Regions from separate parts of the Homo sapiens genome. Here region 2 is linked to region 1. Evidence: fine-mapped expression QTL. Tissue or cell type: whole blood. Region 1 holds a variant in brackets; the other region holds the start of a gene. All regions are shown on one strand. Distances are from middle to middle.

The links. PIP is the estimated chance that this variant, and not a neighbour inherited with it, causes the effect.
Region 2: USP45 starts here. The variant in region 1 is fine-mapped to the expression of USP45 in whole blood (INTERVAL, PIP above 0.99). The same link has a PIP of 0.9 or more in activated CD8 T cells.

What each region holds. Positions count from the first base shown.
Region 1 is chr6:99,474,259-99,476,941 of GRCh38, forward strand. USP45 (ubiquitin specific peptidase 45) reads right to left here. Exons shown (of 18, transcript NM_001346022.3): 9 at 1,885-1,972. Among named protein-coding and RNA genes, the nearest start is that of USP45, 40 kb to the right of the region's middle. The variant CT/C (reference allele first, on the strand shown) is at 1,059.
Region 2 is chr6:99,514,005-99,516,687 of GRCh38, forward strand. USP45 (ubiquitin specific peptidase 45) reads right to left here and starts at 1,419. Exons shown (of 18, transcript NM_001346022.3): 1 at 1,388-1,419. RefSeq lists enhancers at 427-1,334, 1,335-2,240 and silencers at 1,157-1,256, 1,307-1,676, 1,987-2,206.

The DNA of each region.
Region 1 (2,683 bases):
GCGATCACAGCTCACTGCAACCTCCGCCTCTCGGGTTCAAGCAATTCTCATGCCTCAGCCACCCAAGAAGCTGGGATTACAGGTGTGCACCACCACGCCTGGCTAATTTTTGTGTTTTTAGTAGACACATGGTTTCACTATATTGGCCAGGCTGGTCTGAAATTCCTGAGCTCAAGTGATCCGCCCACCTTGGCCTCCCAGAGTGCTGGGATTACAGGCATGAGCCACCATATCTGGCAGAATTTTTTTTAAAAAAGGAAGGTCCATCTTGCCTAGCACTACTTATCACAAGCACATATGCACTTCACTGAACACTTGGCTGCTTTTATTACATATTACCATATAGATTAAGAAGTATATTTGCCTTGAATGGAAAACAGGTTTTCACCTATTACTCCAATTATGACTGACAAGGGCTGCCCACAATGGTGTGCTCAGAAAATAATTCTGAGGCTGAACCCAAACTCACCTGGACTGTTAGGAACGATCAGCAATGTCTTCTATGAGTAAGAGGGAGGAAAATGGAGAATGTGTGCTGTGTATCTGATATCCTTAATATCTTGCATTTTCTCTGATAAACTGATCCTATGTGCACAGGAAACCCCTCCCAGAAGAAGTTGAATTTAACTAATTTAACGTTAAAGTCAATAAAGAGCCTATCAGTTAGGGGATAGGCCTACAATCAACACTGGGGAATCTATCCAGTCCACAGGCTATTCCTTTTCTGAGAAATGCTCTCTCATCTAAGAGGCTGGGACTCCTCTCTCCTAGCCACAAACAACTGATCCATGAGTGGAATTTAATCCAACATGGAATAATGAAGTTTCTGTCTACTGGGAATTTAAAAATTGAGAATCATGAATAGCCAGTATAGTTTTTACATACATGGAACTATGACATACAAATACTGCTTGGTCTGCATGGAGAAAAATGAAGAAAATTTACAGAGCCAGAGAAACTAGGATAATAAGAAGAATGCTTTCTGGATTCCTGACAGCTTTCCTGTTCCTATATCCCCCTATCGCCCAGGAATAATATCTCCCTGCATCTTAAGATTC[CT/C]TTTTTTTTTTTTTTTTTTTACAGCGTTTCACTCCGTCACCCAGGCTGGAGTGCAGTGGCACGATCTCGGCTCACTGCAACCTCCACCCTTGGGGTTCAAGTATTCTCCTGCCTCAGCCTCCCAAGTAGCTAGGATTACAGGCACACGCTACCACACCTGGCTAATTTTTGTATTTTTAGTAGAGACAGGGTTTCAGCATGTTTCCCAGGCTGATCTTGAACTCCTGACCTCAGGTGATCCACCTGCCTCAGCCTTCCAAAGTGTTGGGATTACAGGCATGAGCCACCATGCCTGGCCCCAATTCCTTTTTACTTAAGCTAGTTTAAATTATTTTATTTACAGCCAAAGGACATTAACTAAAAAGGACAATAGGGCTGTAAAAGGATAAAGGTAAATATCTTACAGAAGAAAGAAAAAATATCTAGAATATTTACTCTAAAAAATTAAATTATTTCTCAACTGTACTTTTAAATTGTAATAGAAATTACTTACTTAGTTGTTTTTTTGTTTGTTTGTTTTTTGAGACAGAGTCTCACTCTGTCACCCAGGCTGGAGTAGTGCAGTAGCGGGATCTCCGCTCACTGCAACCTCTGCTTCCTGGGTTCAAGCAATTCTCATGTCTCAGCCTGCCAAGTAGCTGGAATTACAGGTATGCACCACCATGCGCGGCTAATTTTTATTAGAGACGAGGTTTCACTATGTTGGCTAGGCTGGTCTGAAACTCCTGACCTCAGATGATCCACCCCGCCTTGGCCCCCCAATAATCCCTTAGTTTTGTATCCTCTTCTTGAAGAGAATACATGATATACATAAAGAAACCTGACCTTTGTTTCTTCTGTCCTCACTGCATCCAGAAGATAATGAAGAAGCTCCTGACTGTCCTGTTGCTGGAAATCTTTAAATCGAGGTGCCCTGTGATTTAAAAACAAAAGAGGAAAGAAAAAAAGAATAATCATTCCATGGTTCATCAACACTCTTCTCTAAATGCACTTGAAATAGCATATTATTAGCTGGGTGCGGCAGCCTACGCCTGTAATCCCAGCATTTGGGAGGCCAAGGGGCAGATCACTTGAGCTCAGGAGTTCGAGACCAGCCTGGGCAACAAGGCAAAACCCCGTTCTCTACCAAAACACACACCCACACACACAAAATGGCATAAAGACACAGTTTACTACTTTTCCAACTAAATAGATGAAATGTGATTACTGGTCCAATTAGGGTGTGATCTTAAGTGTGCACTGAGAATATGGCTATCATTTATTAAGCAACTACTATATGTTAAGCACAATACTAGTAGTTTTTCACATGTTCAGGCATAATCCTCCAACAACTTTGTTGGGATGTACTGTTTTCTCCAACTTACACATGAGGACTCAGCAGTATTGTTTAAATCATTTGCAAGGTCATACAGCTAGCAAATAAACCAGTATTCAAACCCAAGCCACTGTGATTTATTATCTTCCTACCTTAACCAAAAGGAAAGCAAGAGAGTGTTTCTATTTCATATAAAGGACTATAAGTTGATCTCCCTGTGAATATGTTTTTTAAGGACTTGATAATTAAATTTCCTCTGTATTAACTTAATAGAAAGATCAGGTACTATTCATGGAGACACTGACATAG
Region 2 (2,683 bases), 40 kb after region 1:
ATATCCTCGTAAAAAAACGGCACTTATATCCCTTACCTTTATACAAATTTACAAAACTGTGGCTGAGGATCTCCGTGATCTCCCCCACATTTAGAGCTTTGATAGGATGCACGGGACTCAACATATAGTTGAATTCATGGCTGACATTTATTACACAATGCAGTATGGATATAAAGGCTCATCATAATAGAAAAAGACACAAGCGGAGTCTGGAGGAATCACGTGTAGGCTCCTTATGCGGTCTCCCTCCCAAGAGGGGTCAAACAAAACACATCCTTCCTCCATCAGTGAAAATGCAGCAGTTTCCGCGCAGGGAAGCCCATTAAAGACTTGGTGTCCCGGATTTTTACAGAAGCTGGTAATTTCGGCATAAAACATACTGTTCAGCACAAACCCAAAAATCTAAGTTCCCAGATGCCAAACAAGCACCAACATTGCAAGCAGTCCTTTCTAAGGATAGCAGTCTTAAGGCCTGCTATGTTAACTCTTTTTAGCACAAATATGTTCTGGCCATTTTTCTCATGCGGTTTTCCAAACAATAAACTTTACAGTTTTCAAGTCACCATCACTTAACACTTGTCTTTTCTCTAAAGTAGGATGTGCAACTAAGTTGTTTAGAAAGCTTTGTTTTTAAACAGGCTATGCAAAAAGCCCATATCCTTAAGAAAAAAAAATCCTTTTTTCCTACTCTTGGGCAATTATTTATGGGGGTTGGAAAGAGAAGAAAAGGTCACTATCTCCTTTTATATACCAAGCTCAAAAAGATGAGCAGCACTTATGGTTTTGCTGTGTATCACGCTCAGTTCTAAGCACTTCACAAATATTAACCCACGCAACCCTCACAACCACCTTAGGAGATAAGTTGCTATTATTTTCCGCATTTTACACTTGAAACTGAGAAAGAGAAGTGAAGTGACTTGCAGAGGTCCCAAAGCCAGTAAGCGGTGGATGGAGATGCGGACCCAAGCAGTCCGGCCCCGGAGCTCCTAATACACGACGCTTCCAGAAAAGTCATTAGACAGGCTTCCTCCGGTCACCAACACACACACACCCCGAGGATGTGAAGAGAAATGCGCCGCGATGAGGCGGACGGAAAGGTGTGGGGCCGCCGCGCGCCCAGGTCACCAGGGGACTCGGGCCCCTCCCAGGCCAGCCCCGACGCCCAGGGCTTCTCCCGCAGCCGCATGGACCCGGAGCCGGCAGAGCGGCGCTCACACGGCCCTCGGTGACCGCCCGGCGCCCCCAGGGATCAGGAAGCCGAGTGGGGTGGGGAGCCTCTCTTCCAGCCTCGCCCACCCACAAGGGGGTCAAGGTCGCCGAAGCGAAGACCGAGAAACTGCGGCGACCATACCGCCGCTGCGACCAAAGCGCCGCGTTCTCAACTCACCCCGCCGGGCCGGGCCGCAGCGTCTACAACCTGGGGAGACTGCGCCTGCGCGCTCGTCCCGCTCCCGGCAGAGGTGGGGCCTCGTTCGCCCGCCCCCAGCCAGGACCGGGAGGGTTCCAGGCGGCGCGCCCGGGGCCCGGGAGCGCGGGGAGGGGTGAAAGGGCGGGGCCGGCTTGCGTGGCGCCTGCGTTCTGCGTGTCCGCAGAGCCCGGAGAGTCCCTGATAATCTAAGACTCATAGCCACCGACTAGCAATTTGTTAGGATCCTGGGCCAGCGTGCGCACCTCGGATGTTGCAGGAGTCCGGCTTAAGTCCCACTTGTTGCTGGGCACCTTCTGAAACAGCCTCCGATTTCCCTCCGTTACCCTCCTCTGAACTCTTTTTTTTTTTTTTTTTTTTTTGAGACGGAGTCTCGCTCTGTCGCCCAGGCTGCAGTGCAATGGCAAGATCTCGGCTCACTGCAACCTCCGCCTACCGGGTTCACGCCATTCTACTGCCTTAGCCTCCCGAGTAGCTGGGACTACAGGCGCCCGCCATCACGCCCGGCTAATTTTTTGTATTTTGTTTAGTAGAGACGGGGTTTCACCGTGTTAGCCAGGATGGTCTCGATCTCCTGACCTTGTGATCCGCCCGCCCCGGCCTCCCAAAGTGCTGGGATCACAGGCTTGAGCCACCGCGCCCGGCTCCGCCCCCACACCCCCGCCGCCCCCTGAACTCTTAAAGTCACATCTAACATTCGTCATATATTATTGTGGTTTTTCCCCCATTGCTGTTGTCTTACCTATCCTTCTCTCTTCCTAGCTAGATAGTACATTTCTTGAAATACACCTATACCTCCTCAAAGCCCGGTTATCTGTTGAAGTGGCCAGCACATTGCATGTTTAGTAAAAGTAGTTGGTTTGAAAATATTTTGTTTCAATCATGGATATTGCAAATGCCAACACTGGTTATGGATAGGTTCTAAAAGTCTCCTGATCTTTCACAACTCTTCAGCCAAGGGACAAATGTGGCTTTAAGGATAAGAGCATTGGCGTAGAAATCAGAAGATACGAGAGTTAAAATTGCAAACACTAAATTTTTCTTTAAAAACTCTTCTAACAGTATTTACATGTGGAGAACTTGGCAAAGAAGGTTGATATTTGCTTATATCGTACTTAACAAGGACCATTCATTTAACAAACATAATTGAGCACAGATATGCCAGTTGCTGTTACAGGTATAGAGGTACACTATCATTTTGGGGTTAGGATAATTTTTTTCCCTAGGGAAAAAGAAAATATTCCTCAAATAAGAAGA